Regions from separate parts of the Homo sapiens genome. Here regions 1 and 2 are each reported to be linked to region 3. Evidence: microRNA targets listed by miRTarBase, many of them from high-throughput screens and not tested one by one. Region 3 holds a microRNA gene; each other region holds the end of a gene's coding sequence.
The links. The annotated mature microRNA hsa-miR-4668-3p reads GAAAAUCCUUUUUGUUUUUCCAG and lies in region 3 at 2,330-2,352, opposite strand. An mRNA with a match to its seed (bases 2 to 7 or 8) in the 3' UTR can be bound and repressed. Matches are read on the target gene's strand: a 7mer-m8 pairs with bases 2 to 8, a 7mer-A1 pairs with bases 2 to 7 and ends in A, and an 8mer does both.

Region 1 (5,232 bases), not on the chromosome of region 3:
TTCTGCATGAAGTCAAAGAGATAGATCACAGCAAAACATGTGGGGGTAGCCATGTTTATACCTACACATCAATTGGTTACCACAGAGAGAGAGAGACCATGCTTCTTTTTTCTGTTTATACAACATCCAAAAGAGGCCAAAGGGGTTTAATTCAATCTCATCTCAATACTGTGGCATCAGTAATCTGAGACCAAGAAACTTTTAAATGCACCCACCTGAGATGACAGCCCTTTGTAAAGAAGAAAATTAATTATATAGCAGCATGGTATAGTGAGAGAAATTTTTTTTGAGCCAGATAAAATGGAAACTGGGTTTTATCTCTTACTTGTGGGATGACCTTGGGCAATTTACCAAATTCCTCATCTGTATGTGGGAGTTATCCTTCTTGTTCATATAACAGGGAGAATGAGAGTCATTTGATGAGTTGTACCCATCAGTGAGATGGGACACATATAGCACCTACACAAATAGTACCTACACACACTCAATGATAATTAGTTCCTTTCTTTTTTCCCATCACCCAATGTCATTTTTTTGTTTTAATCCAAGATTTTGGGGCTTTCTTCTGAGGTAAAAATTATTATTATTATTTTTTGAGATAGAGTCTTGCTCTGTTGTCTAGGCTGGAGTGCAGTGGCGCAATTTCAGCTCACTGCAACCTCCACCTCCCGGGTACAAGCAATTCTCCTGCTTCAGCCTCCCAGGTAGCTGGGATTACAGGCGCCCACCACCATGCCCAGCTAATTTTTGTATTTTTAGTAGAGACGGGGTTTCACCATGTTGCCCAGGCTGGTCTTGAACTCCTGACCTCATGATCCACCCACCTTGGCCTCCTAAAGTGCTAGGATTACAGGTGTGAGCCACTGCGCCTGGTTGGTAAATTTTTTTTCTTGTATTCTGAATATAGGAATTCAATCAGAGATGTTAAAACAAAGAAAGATGGTACTCTCTGGCATGTTTCAATCTTATTCTATTGCATGAGTGCCTGCTAGAAATAATTACAAGCCATTCATGAAATCAAGGTTGGTTGGGAATATTGGACTCCTATATACTGTAAATGGTATCTTTGCCCCTCTGCAGTCCCAAACTAATACTAGAAGTAAGGTGTTTTAATATCTAAAAGAATGTTTCCAAATTAGTGTGGCGAAGCTAATAATACATTGTGATCATGGCACATGGTGGTTTGCTGTGAATGACAGCTGAGGGGATGTCAACAAGCAGTATTAAGCAAATTTGATGCTGGTGATAGAACAAGATTGTACCAACAACAACTGTGTCAGCTTACAAGAGAGTAGGGCAGAAGCGCTGGGTAACTGTTGAAAAGGAGAAAGAAATTGTGCAAACTGAAAAGTCTCAGAAGCACTTAGATGGCTTGGTAAGTTGGTTAGTGCTGTCAAATATTATCAAGACCACCCTTGTATTCAAGGTAACAAGATGCATAGACTTTTTTTTTTTTTTTTTAAAGTAAAGGCAATGACCTAAGCTAATCCAGGGAAAAATCTGTAGCTCCTGTAACACAGCCTCCTATTGAAGAATTCAGTGCTGATTAGGACCTGTCTCATCCAAAGGTTTATCACTAGAATTACCAGAAGACCGAGTAGCATGTATACCTTTATTCTAATCTCCTGAAAAAATTTAGAAGGCTATGCTTAAGAAAATGTTGGTAGTAGATGTAATAATAAATCAATACACTCAAGTTTAGGCCCATATAGATTCCCAACTAGTGATCAGTTCCTTGCTTCTTAGAGTAACTGAGCAAATATATGATGAAAAGCAATGTATAAAATTCTATCCAAGAACAAATTTGTGATGTTCAAAAACAATCCTTTGTTATATTGACAATATAGATTTAAATATAGCTTTATATAATAAGTTTGTCAGGGTAAAGTCAGAAAGGATGTGAACTGAGAGGACTGCAGAAGTTTCTGTTAAGGAAAAAAATCCAACTTCCTTTAGTTGATATACCCAAAGATAAGTGTATTCAAAATGCAATTCATTTTTTTTCAGAACAGAGTTGACTTCTTTGTGGAAACTATTTTCGGATAAAAAGAGAGCCTATATACCCGGGGGAAAAAAACCTCTCAACATTTTTTAGTTACATGAAGAATTACATGAGGCACCTAGCATGTTCAGTTTGTCAGTAACTCAATTAGTCTTTTGACAACTGACTTGCGTCCCCCCATCCCCCTTGCCCCATATGGCTCTGTTTTGAAAAGAATTAGAGTCATGCATCATTTAATAACACAAATACATTCTGAGAAATGTGTCATTAGGCAATTTCATCATTGTGTGAATATCAGAGTGTACTTACACAAACCTAGATGGTGTAGGTAGCCTACTACACACCTAGGCTATATGGAATCCCTGTTGCTCCTAGGTTACAAACTTGTGCATGTTACTGTATTGAACACTGTAGGCTATTGTAACATCATGGTGAGTATTTGTGTGTCTAAACATAGAAAAGCACACTAAAGATACCATATTATTAATATAATCTTTTGGGACCAATGTCAAATATGTGGTTCATTGTTGACTAAAACATCATTATGTGTCATATAACTGTATCTCATTTCCTAGTCATTCTCTTACTCATCTGCAGTTTTCAATTATATGAAGAAAACATCTTAAATATGTTACAAATGTGCAGAAATAGTTCTTTTTCCCATTCTTAGTTATAGTTTTGCTTTTACGTAACTCATTGGGAGTCAAAATTAAATGTTAAACTAGGAGTCAGAATGAAAGATACCTAGTTTCACAATCATCTCAACTGAACAAAAGTTTAAATTTAAAAAAAGAAAAAACATATTAACAAGAATATAGTATGGTTGTCCTCCAGGGACCCAATCCCAGCAAAGAATTGTGTATCTCTTTCTAAGGAATTCTGTGAAGCAGATTTGTTCGGGCCAGTGACCTGAGGCATTAGAATGAGCCCTGTCTCTGGAAACCTGAATTCTAATCTTGATTCTTTGACTAACTTGCCTGGGTTTTAAGATTTTTAGGTAATTTATCCTCTCAGCATCAGTTTTCTTACCAAAATGAATGCAAAGGCTATCCTGATTTCTAAGGTGTCTTCTGGTATGCCAAAGTATTGGTATGCTTAAGATTAGAGGCTTTATTTGGATGAAATCAGTATTTAACTTTTCCCAAATTTGTCAGTGTTCTCACTGGGTTCACACTGAGGGCTTTACTCTTTTTTCCTTCATAGAGATACTAGATCCCCTTCTTTCTTTGGCCAAGTCCAGCGGAATTTTTTCTTAACTCTCTTCCTAAGACTTGTTTACCTCATTCCTTTCCCCTTTCATGATGTTTCCTTCACTTCATTTTCCCTTTGAAATATTTTAGAACCCATTTTTCGCATATTTCATCCCTGTGAATGCTACTATATCTAAAGTAGTATTTTATTATTTTTATATAAAAGAAACTTTCAGCAGCTCTATTTCTGCTTTACTCATTTCAACTCCTCTTACTTGGCCCTGCACTAGAGTGCATTCAATGCTTAAATGCATTTTTGATTACTACAGTGTGTTATAATCCAGCCTTTTTTCATTGCCTTAAAAAAAATCCACATGAATCTAGGAAGTTATTGGTATCATAAATCTTTAAAACTGTAGTTTTAAAAGCACAAAATGAACTGAAATAGTGTTCATACCTAGAATTAAATAAGCATTTGAAGGCCTCTTCTTCCTCACTTAAATTTTTTTCCACTGATTCAGATTGGGAAAAACCATTATGTAATTTAGATCAAAATGCTGCCATCAAGCAGGGTTACCAGCAGTAGATCAATACTATTTCAAACTGTTAGGTAAGCATGCATGTAGTCTGGAGGGATTTCACAAACGTGACAGCTGTGGGCATCTGAGGTCTTCTAGCCATAAGAACTCAAGAAATTTTTGTTTGATGAAAAAATCCCCAAATAAAGGACTAAGTTAAGTTCTCATTGATCATTCCTACTTGTGGGCCAGAAGAGCTGATTATTACCAAACATAGTCATTGGGAATATCCTCATGCTTTCTCAAGTCCTTCTGTCTTCATTTCCAGTTACCTGTTAGCTTTCACAGGGAAATTTGCATGATGAGGTCTAGCATAGGGTGGAAAGCAGGCAATTCAAAGGCCACCCAGTTCCGAAGAAGGACTTCAGTCCAATGTTGGACTGTTTTCCTGAGTCATCTTTTGGTATTCCAAATATTGTGATTTATAAAAAATCTTCCATTCAAATGTTATTAAAATTGAAAATTTAAACTACCGCTGAGAAATATAGTTTCCAAGTTCAGTGTTATTTTCACAGTATTTAATGGGTTTACTATATAAAAACATCAGTTACACTTCAGGCTTCATAATATTTTTCAAATTTCCACTTTTGATATGGCTTCACTGGGTCACAGGCAGCTACTTTCAGGATCTTTTGAGAAAAATTTCCTTCCAAGCATAATAATTGCTGATTGTTTTCAAAAACAATGTGATTCACCTGGAGAGAAAGAAGAGCTGGGAATGAGCCACAGGCTGAATTTGATAACTGCAATATGAAGAAATGAAAATCAATTAAAAAAATGGACAGGCAGTTATATTTTTGATTTTTAAGAATTCTTCTGAACTAAATTATTAACATAAACACAGACTTTGAAAAGTATTAAATTTGTCTCTGTCTCAGACTAAGTAATCATCCTCCACCAAGCTATAAGACTTTTAAGTCCTCAGGAGGCAAAAGAAAAATTTCTTGATGATATGGCTGAGAACTATACTCTTTAAAGAGAAAACATTACAGATGACATTTATTGGATTTGATAGATGATAACTACTTCATTGATGGTAAAGAAAGAATACATACCGTAACAAAAAGTTAATTAATTTTTAAAGTAGGTGTCTTTGTGAGTTTGGATTACAAAATTCTGGAAGTGATGTATTTTATTTATGAGCTCCTTACCATAATCTCTGACAATTCATAATAACTGATGTCCAAAATCCAGATTAGGAAAAAGTCAACAGCATTAAAGAAAGTTATATTATTGCTTAATATTTAGTGAATATCCTAGAAATGGTAGATAAATTAGATAGACCTTACTAATGGCTTATATATTTTTTCATCTATAAATTTTCTTAATTACGTATGACTATGACAAAGACAATCTTAATTACACATGTTGTTTTTAAACTTTAAAAAGTTATCAAACAGGGGTGACTTTCATAATAATTTATTTTAAAGATTGCTGCTACAAAAGTATTGTCACCCTTGCA
Region 2 (5,232 bases), not on the chromosome of region 3:
GGGTTCATACGGGCAGAAGTGCCCATGAGTGCAGTGAATGTGGGAAATCTTTCAACTGCAACTCCAGCCTAATTAAACATTGGAGAGTTCACACTGGAGAAAGACCTTACAAGTGTAACGAATGTGGGAAATTCTTCAGCCACATTGCCAGCCTCATTCAACATCAGATAGTTCACACTGGCGAGCGGCCTCACGGGTGTGGTGAGTGTGGGAAAGCCTTCAGCCGAAGCTCTGACCTCATGAAACATCAGCGAGTTCACACTGGTGAGCGGCCTTATGAATGCAATGAATGTGGGAAGTTATTTAGCCAGAGCTCCAGCCTCAATAGCCATCGGAGACTTCACACTGGTGAACGGCCTTACCAGTGCAGTGAATGTGGGAAATTCTTTAACCAAAGCTCCAGCCTCAATAACCACCGGAGACTTCACACCGGCGAGCGGCCTTATGAGTGCAGCGAATGTGGGAAAACCTTCAGGCAGAGGTCCAATCTGAGGCAGCACCTGAAAGTTCACAAACCAGACAGGCCTTACGAATGCAGCGAATGTGGGAAAGCCTTCAACCAAAGGCCTACCCTCATTCGGCATCAGAAGATTCACATCAGAGAAAGGAGCATGGAGAATGTGCTCCTTCCCTGTTCACAGCACACACCAGAGATAAGCTCTGAGAACAGACCTTATCAGGGCGCTGTCAACTACAAGTTGAAACTTGTTCATCCAAGTACCCACCCTGGGGAGGTTCCCTAGGAATGCTAGCTGTGTTGGAAGCTTTCTGGAGACAAGTTACATTCTCTTACTGTAGAGTTTATCAGCGTTTTTTCACTGCTGGGGTTGTGATAGAAGCCATGTCAGCACCACACACTGCAGCTCTCCAAAGAGTGTGTCCACCACTCCACTGTGCTCAGGGAAGGCAGACCTCTCCTCTCTCTTTCCAATCCCTAAAGGGAATTAGGAGTAGTCTGAAGCCTTGGGAAGATGTCATTCCCGCCCTGTATGGCTGGTTTAGCCATGGACATGACCAGCTTTTGGCTGTGAAGACCTGAGCAGGGTTTTGCCAACAGCTTGTTCTAGAGAAGGTTTCCCTTTTTCTGGGACATTGTTGGTCTCATGTTATGCCTGTGAAGGATTTGTCCAGCCTTCATGTTACTCTACACAACAACTTATCTCCTGTGTATTGCCCTGGTTCATGTGATGATAATGGCCTTATGATAAAGCCGCCTTTAGTCTTCCATGTTCTGATCACTGTGTGGGGTGGTTCAAGAGCAGAGTTAAGATCTACCAAACTGAAGGGGTCTCCAGATTATCTTGGAGGGGACAGGAGGATGGCAGAGAAACAACTGTCAATCCAGATTTGACCTCATTTGCATTGCCACCAAGGCCTCCTAGGAAAAATTGTAGGAATTTATGGGTATAATATTGTGGTCTGAATGGCGTGAATTTTTATCCCGAGGAGGGGGCAGTTGTGACAACCTCCAGTGCATGTGGGAACAGCATGAATTGGGTCCCTTATTCCCAGGGGGTGCCCCATATTCCCCAATACTGTAAAGCAGATGCTGTTTAGCACCTGCCAAGGAGCCATATGCCCTGAAGTTCAGCATTAGGCAGGTATCTCTTAACTGTAAGACATACCAGGCCCAGCTGGGACCATAATTTGTACAGAAACACTGGATGTGATTAATAGGGAGTAGGCGAGATTATAGCAAACCAGCAGAAATGGAACTCTGCTAAATGTGCATCCGTGAATGCTCCCTTGAATGTGGCTGTGCAGGATTCAGGGTTTGCAGAAATTCTCAGGACCTCAGACCTCTGTCCTATGACTAATGTTACTGGCAGAGCAAATAATCTAAAGGTTTTGGTTTTGTGGATTACCATCTCCGTGCTGTGCATCTGAAGGCCAGTGCTGTGCTGGCAGGAAAATAGGGACTGAGAAAAAGCAGATCCTATACTATAGGGACTGTAGTATCTATGACGTAGCCAGCCATTCTTTGCTCCCAAGGCAAGAAGAAAGAGATGACAGAGTCAATATAGGGTTGCCAAATCGGATTTTCTAAAATGAGTAGGAAGTTGGATTTTTATGTGCAACAGTTTCTTTTAATGCTTTGTTGATATGTGATTGTCATGCAATAATTATTCATATTTGGTAAGTTTTGTACATATATTATGTACACTCAGGGAACCAATACCATAATCATGATAATGAACGTATCCATCACCTGCAAAGCTACCTCATGCCCCTTTACATTCCCTCCTTGCCTTCCCTAGGAAACCGTTGATTTACATTTTTTACTTTAGATTTGTTTGCCTTTTCTAGAATTAACACAATTGGAATCATAAAGTATTTATACTCTCTTTTGGTCTGGTTTCTTTCATGCAGCATAATTATCTTGAGAATCATCCATGCTGTGTGTATATATAGTTCATTCCTTTTACTACTGAGTAGTGCTATACTGGGTGAGTGCACCATAGTTTTTTATGGTTTATTTAAAAATGTTAAAAAAATCTGATGAAATATACTTAACATGAAATTTACTATCCTAACCATTTTTAGTGTATACTTCAATGGTATTAAGTAGATTCGTATTGTTATGTAACCATCACCACCATTCGTCTCCAGAACTCTTCAATCTTGCAAAACTGAAATTCTGTACCTGTCAAGCAATAACTTCCCATTTTCCCTTCCCCAGCCCCTCAAAACCACCATTCTACTTCCTGTCTGTATGAATTTGACCACTCTAGGTACCTCATATAAGTAGAATAATAAGTATTTGTCTTTTTGTAGCTAGCTTATTTCACACTTAGCATAATATTCTCAAGGTTCATCAATGTTGGAGCATATGTCAGAATTTCCTTTTTAGGGCTGATTAGTATTTCCTTGTATGTGCTGCATTTTGCTTCTCTATCATGTGTCAATGGATACTTGGGGTGCCTCCACCTTTTGCCTATTTCGAATAATGCTGCTCTGAACCTGAGTGCACAACAAATATCTATTCAAGACCCTACTTTCAACTCTTTTGGGTATATGCTCAGAAGTAGAATTACTAGATGATATAGTAAATCTATTTTTAGTTTTTTGAGGACCTGACATACACTGTTTTCCACAGAACTGCACCCTTTCACATTCTTACCAACAATAAACAAAGTTTAAAATTTTTCAGAGCCGGGTGTGGTGGCTCATGCCTGTAATCCCAGCACTTTGGGAGGCTGAGGCAGGTGGATCACGAGGTCAGGAGATCGAGACCATCCTGGCTAACACGGTGAAACCCCATCTCTACTAAAAATACAAAAAATTAGCTGGGCGTGGTGGCAGGCGCCTGTAGTCCCAGCTACTTGGGAGGCTGAGGCAGGAGAATGGTGTGAACCCAGGAGGCGGAGCTTGCAGTGAGCCGAGATCACGCCACTGCACTCCAGCCTGGGCAGCAGAGTGAGACTCCCTCTCAAAAAAAAAAAAAAAAAATTTGTTTTCCTACATCCTCACCAGCACTTGTTTTTGTTTTTTTTGGTGGTAGCCATTCTAATGGGTGTGAAGTAGTATCTTATTTGATATGCTTTCCCTAATGATTTGTGACTTTAAGTATCATTTCATGTGCTTACTGGCCATTTGTATATCTTTGGGGAAATTTCTATTCAAGTATTTTCTCCATTTTTTTTTCACTCACCCCTCCTTATCTCCATTTTTTTTTTTTTTTTCTGAGATGGAGTCTCGCTCTGTCGCCCAGGCTGGAGTGCAGTGGCGCGATCGGCTCACTGCAAGCTCTGCCTCCCGGGTTCACGCCATCCTCCTGCCTCAGCCTCCCGAGTAGCTGGGACTACAGGCACCTGCCACCACGCCCAGCTAATTTTTTGTATTTTTAGTAGAGATGGGGTTTCACCATGTTAGCCAGGATGGTCTCGATCTCCTGACCTCGTGATCTGCCCGCCTCCGCCTCCCAAAATGCTGGGATTACAGGCATGAGCCACTGCGCCCGGCTTCTTATTTCCATTTTTGAATTGGGTTGTTTTGTTGTTGAGTTTTACAACTTTTCTGTATATTCTGGGTACTAATCCTTTATCAGATATTTTCTCCCATTCTGTGGACCGTTTTACTCTGTTCATAGTGTCCGTTGATCAGAAAATTTTAAATTTTCATGAGGTTCAATTTGTCTATGTTTTCTTTTGGTGTCTTTGCCTTTGGTGTCATATATAAGGAACCATTGCCACCTATGTCTCTAAGAGTTTTTATAGTTTTAGCTCTTACATCTAGGTCTTTGATTCATTTTGAGTCACTTTTTGGAGTTCATTTTTGTGTATGGTGTTAGGTAAGGGTCCAGCTTCACTGTTTTGCATGTGGATATCCCATTTTCCTAACACCATTTGTTCAAAAGACTGTCTTTTCCCCATTGGTTGGTCTTGGCACTCCTGTCAAAAATCATTTGAGCATATATGTGAGGGTTTACTTCTGAGCTCCATTTTAATTCTGTTGGTGTGTATGTCTGTCCTTACACCAGTTTCATGCTGTTTTAATTACTGTAGCTTTGTAGTAAGTTTTAAAATTAGGAAGTGTGAGACCTTCAACTTTGTTCTTTTTCAATATTCTTTTGGCTGTTCAGGATCCCTTGAGATTCCATATTAATTTTAGAATGGATCTTTATATTTCTGCACAAGATATTATTGGGATTCCATTAAATCTATTGATCACTTTGGGTGGTATTGACATCTTAATAATATTAAGTTACCCAATCTGTGAATATGGAATTTCATTCCATTATTTATGTCTTTGCTTTCTTTCAGGAGTGTTTTGTAGTTTTCATTGTACAAGTTTTCACCTCCTTGGTTAATTCCTAAGCATTCTATTACTTTTGATGCTAATGTAAATGGAACTGTTTTCATGATTTCCTTTTCAGATTGTTCATTGTTAGTGTATGGAAATGTAAGTCATTTTTCTGTGTTGATTTTTTTTATCCTGCTAGTTTGCTGAATTCATTTATTAATTTTAAGTCTTTGTGTGTGTGTGTGTGTGAAAACTTTAGAATTATCTACATATAATATCACCTGGGATCAGAAATAATTTCACTTCTTCCTTTCCAATTTGGCTGCCTTTTACTTCTTTTCTTCCATAATTACTCTGGCTAGGACTTCCAGTACCATGTTGAACAGAAACAGAGAAAGAGGACATCTTTGCCTTGTTCCTGATCAGAAAGCTTTTGGTTTTTCACCATTGAGAATGATGTTAGCTATGGGTTTTTATATATGGCTTTTA
Region 3 (5,232 bases):
GCCATATTGCCAGTGTTAGCCCTGCAGTAGGCATTCCTGTGGACAACATGCCATCCAATCCTGAAGAAAAAGCAAAACACCACTACTTAACAAAGAAAAGGCTTATGCACTGTCCCTTACATTTTTGTTTTTTTTTTTTAAAAAAACAAAACAAAACAGAATCAAGTCCAGTTCACCACAAGTTAAGCACAACCTGGCGAGCAAGTTTAGCGGCATGATGGGGAGAAAACAGTGAGGTACAGCATGCATTTACAACCAGCGCTGATCTAGTCTATTTTGTCATATAAACTTGAATACAAAAATCCAATTTAAATAAGACTAGACTTACTATAATAGTAAACAAACAAAAACAAAAAACAAAAAAAAAAAACACACACAGTAGACTTAGTTTGATACTGATTAATTTTAAGAGTAAACTCATCCTGTCCCCTCTTAATACTCTACTGCAATTTATTGATGGCTAGAATATTTACTGACTTAAAAAAGGTATTAAATACTTGTATCATGAAATTACATTCTTATTAACAATAAGACATACTGTGTAAGAAAATAGCTCATGTGTGAAATGTGTCTGAAATGCATTTTTTCCTTACAACTATCAAAACATCCACTCACACTAAAATGAAACCACTCCCAACCCCCCCTGAAAAAATGTTAAGGGAAGACGGGGTGGGCTGGGGGAGGAGCAAGGAAGGAAAAGATTTAGCTATACTAATTACAGCACAGTGATTAACAATGGTTCAAGACAGAACCAACAAGAGTTGGTCAAAAAGATGCCTTCAATACATGGCTACAATTAAAAACCAAACTCAGCCGCTTTTGGTTCATTGCAGTGAGACCAAAAAAATTATCTCTCACAGATTCATATAAATACTAGACTCCAGCTCTTATATCATTTTTTTTTAAGTTTTTCTGTTTGTTTCTGCAAGGCCTAGCTATCTTATTACAATTTATATTTGCTCTGCAACAACTACAAGAGGTAGGCATAAAGCATGAAAAAGTTTCTCAGTTAGTACCTCGCCATGTGTTGTTCACTGCACAAAACCATTCACTTTGGACATGAATAGTCATTCCTTCTATTATCTTCTAAACTCTAAAGCAAAGCTGCTGCCACCCGTAAATGTTCTAAAAGAGTGTACTCACAAGTAAGAAACTTTCTCTACTGAAGGATACTGTCACAGAGTTTGTTGCAGAGCATCTATATATATATTTATTTATTTATTTTAAAAAAATAAACAACAATGATGAACGAACCCAGGTTCCTAGAACCAATTCTCTTGATTCTCTACTTCCACAAAATAAAGTGTATCATTTGGCCAAGACTACAGATGTGTTTTTTTTTTTTTTCACAGATGCAAGTGCCATGCAAAAATAAATTAAAGAACAGATACCAAAACATACATGTGATAAAACTACAGAAGGTAGATTTTTAAAAGCATTTATATAAACATAATTTATAATACTTCTCTTTTTTCCTTTATATACAGTCACAAAGCTGTAGTTATACATCTAGGATTTCCTCTGCTGTACCCCCACAGCGTAATCTGTAGCGACCAGTTCTCCAGCTTATAGTTGGGTCCCATAATGCAGACAAAAAAATGTATATTGTCATGGATTCGCGGATGAACCAGGCGACTGCATAATCAAGTTTTGAAAAACACAGTGTGCCACCCTAGGAATGGAAAAAAAAATTTTTTAATTTCACTCACTGTCAAACTAAAGACAAGGTTAAAAAATTAAATTCTTGGATTTCACTTTTCTAAGTATACTATGTAAAATCAAGTCTGCTTCCTTATGTAATTTAACTGCCATGTTATACCGTTCAAGAAAATGCTAATTGTTAATGAAGCATTAAAATAACTGCTATCTTAATGTCTTATTAGTTTCAATACTCACTGATTTAATTAACTTCATGTTTTTGGAAACTTAATAAAAGCGATTATATAACCAATAGAAAGTTGCAAATCGACTTAAGTTTTGCATCAACATTCCACTAGAGAAAGTCATGTTCAAACCCGAGACTAACCTACAATGGGAAGCTGAAGAATGGCTCAGATACATTTCCTTCAACTTTTTCTAAATTGAAATAGTTCTAGTTCCACCAAGGGACTGCCAACCTTTTCATGCCTATCCACATACCTGGACACCCCTGAGTTGAATGTAGTCAAATATAAACCATGCCAGGCAATGACACATGAAAAATACCATAATATCCCATCTGAACACATGGTGGGCTGCCCATCCAATAATTAAACTGGCAACAAAGCATTCTGAAATTGGCTCACAAATTATTGTAGCAGGAAGCATGTTAATTCGTAGTTTGGTCCACCTGGAAAAACAAAAAGGATTTTCTTTAAAACAATATCCTGGCTACAAGACAAATCCTTTTTTTTTTCCCTCAAATAATCAATTTTTTTACCCTGTGATAGAAAGACCATTCTCTTTAAACTTTTTTTGTTTTGTTTTTTTTTTTTTACTTGAGACGGGGTTCTGCTCTGTCACCCAGGCTGGAGTGCAGTGGCACTCACTGTAGCTTCAATCTCCCAGGCTCAAGCGATCTTCCCACCTCATCCCACCAAGTAGCTGGGACCACAGGTGTACACGCCACCACACCTGGCTAATTTTTGCATTTTTTGTAGAGACAGGGTTTCACCATTTTGCCCAGGCTGGTCTCAAACTCCTGGGCTCAAGCAGTCCTCTCGCCTTGGCCTCCCAAAGCGCTGGGATTACAGGTGTGAGCCACCACACACAACCTAAAAATTTTTTTTAATGACTCTCTTTTCTATTTTTGTCTAGGATGTCAAAGAAAAATGTCTTTAAATTCATTTGTATGGCCTACGCTCTGATGAATACAGATAATAAAATTTAATCAGCACAGAAAGTTAGAAAATAAAGATCAGCATATTAAAAAATTCAGTCTCAACATTTCTCTAATGAGTGCTTTCAGTGTTATACAGCAAATAAAATACATTTAGACATTAAATTTATCTTAAACACAGACGTTAAACTCTATTTTCTGCAACTAAACAAAAATCTTCAACCTTTAGGTACATTCATTTAACTACATTAAACCTGTAAAAATTACCACCCCCCTCCCCACTTTCCTTTTAACGAAGTATAAAAAGAAAACAGTTGATTTACCTGATCATTCTGGATTGAAACTGAGAAATTGAATATGAGCCAGAGTTTTGCATTGCAACTTGAGTGGACATTGCAAACCTCCAACCTCTGAAAATTAAGATAATTAGAAAATAAGTTATGATGATGAACACATGCAAGCGTAACTGGTTATGCATTCAGTAATCATTATAAAGACCAGGCAACTGCCGGTATTCAGGGTGAGCCCAGCTTTCATGATTAGCACATGACTTAAGGTCTACCATACGTATGGATGTTTTAGCAATTATGCTGGCCCGTGACAGCACCATCTAAGAACTAGAAGAAACTGTACCCACCTTACTTTACAATTTAAGAAACTTAAAATGCAGTCATTTTGAAAAAAAATGGAGAGGGCTCCATATTTAATAGATTAGTCTCTGATGACTACTAACCAAACAACAAGACATGTAAACAGAAAGTGGCATTATGGATCTCATGGGAGACACTAGGAAACCATGAACCACATGAACACAATCATGACAGAATTTGTATTTAAAACACACTTCAGTTTTTAAAAAATTTAAAAGAATTCTCACACAAGGCAGTGATCTCCTTTAAAAACAAGTATTTTAGGCTGGATGCAGTGGCTCATGCCTGTAATCCCAGCACTTTGGGAGGCTGAGGCGGGCGGATCACGAGGTCAGGAGTTCAAGACTAGCCTGGCCAACATGGTGAAACCCCGCCTCTACTAACATACAAAAAAAAGTAGCTGAGTGTGGCGGCGGGTGCCTATAATCCCAGCTACTTGGGAGGCTGAGGCAGGAGAATCGTTTGAACCCAGGAGGCGGAGACTGCAGTGAGCCGAGATTGCGCCACTGCACTCCAGCCTGGATGTCAGGGCGAGACTGTCTCAAAAAAAAAAAAAAAAACCAAAACAAAACAAGTATTTTGTGATAGAGAAATGCTAAGTCAGTCATATGAATCTTTCAGTGGCTTCTTAGCAAAGTATCATATAATTCACTGACAAATTTCAAATTTTGAAATGATAGTCTTTAAATTTTCACCTACTAGTTTATGACTGCACTGATAGTTTTAATTCTTCTAAAACACAGAAATTTGTATCTATATAGTAAAAATTCTAAACACAGAGAAACTTACTTTTAATCGCTTTAAAACACATTAATTTGAAAAATGTAGAGGAATCAGAACATTTACCTTCTTCATTAGTACATATCTACAATTCTATAATTAGAATATGAATTACTCTATAAAATTATTGATCTGCTGGGTGTGGTGGCTCATACCTGTAATCCCAGCACTTTAGGAGGCCGAGGTGGGCAGATCACTTGAGTTCAGGAGTTCAAGACCAGCCTGGCCAACATGAAGAAACCCCATCTCTACTAAAAATACAAAAATTAGTGTGCATGGTGGTACATGCCTGTAGTCCCAGGTGCTCTGGTGGCTGAGGCATGAGAATCACCTGAACCCGGGAGGCAGAGGCTACAGTGAGCCAAGATCGCGCCACTGCACTCCAGCCTAGGTGACAGAGCAAGACTCTGTCTCAAAAACAAACAAAATAATAAAATTATTGACCTATTCTGTACTTACTAGCAAAAAAAATAAAATTAAATTAAAAAGCCCTAATCTATAGGTTGAACAAAAAGAATAAACCAACAGAAGTTAGGTAATAAAAATACTATGGCTTCATTTAGTTGTCTTACCGGTCAGCTATCGCTTTGGCCATAAAGTAATCTTCGGCAATGTACTGAGCAAAAGCTATAAGTCCTCCTGCTTGATCCAACACATCTTTTCTCATTAAACAAGACATTCCTGTCACACATTTGAAACCAGTTACATTGGCAGAGATATAGTATCTTGGATGTGAAGTTCCAAAATATACCTGCCCAAAAAACCACAAACGTGTATGATTAGAATTTCATGTTAAAAGCATGGTGTTCACGAACTGTTTTTCCCAATGGTTTTTTTATAAGTATGATTGAGTGAATATCTTATTATTCTTACGTAGACTACCTGAATAAAAAGTGGTAGACAATATTGCTTTCATAGAGCAAGCACAGTTAGTAAGCTAAAAATGCATCCAAATAAAACTTAATTTAGATACAAAATAAGGTA

Region 1: the mRNA of GALNT5 is a reported target of hsa-miR-4668-3p. Seed matches in the 3' UTR shown: 7mer-m8 at 3,903-3,909, 7mer-m8 at 3,558-3,564 and 7mer-m8 at 1,938-1,944.
Region 2: the mRNA of ZNF792 is a reported target of hsa-miR-4668-3p. Seed matches in the 3' UTR shown: 7mer-m8 at 2,037-2,043 and 7mer-m8 at 2,063-2,069.

What each region holds. Positions count from the first base shown.
Region 1 is chr2:157,310,441-157,315,672 of GRCh38, reverse strand. GALNT5 (polypeptide N-acetylgalactosaminyltransferase 5) reads right to left here. Exons shown (of 10, transcript NM_014568.3): 10 at 1-4,465. The coding sequence ends at 4,325. Among named protein-coding and RNA genes, the nearest start is that of ERMN, 13 kb to the left of the region's middle.
Region 2 is chr19:34,953,467-34,958,698 of GRCh38, reverse strand. ZNF792 (zinc finger protein 792) reads left to right here. Exons shown (of 4, transcript NM_175872.5): 4 at 1-2,345. The coding sequence ends at 743. Among named protein-coding and RNA genes, the nearest start is that of ZNF792, 8.1 kb to the left of the region's middle.
Region 3 is chr9:111,929,267-111,934,498 of GRCh38, reverse strand. It overlaps MIR4668 (microRNA 4668), which reads right to left and starts at 2,399; the gene lies at 2,330-2,399. It overlaps UGCG (UDP-glucose ceramide glucosyltransferase), which reads right to left. Exons shown (of 9, transcript NM_003358.3): 6 at 4,821-4,999; 7 at 3,142-3,228; 8 at 2,140-2,329; 9 at 1-1,672. The coding sequence ends at 1,502.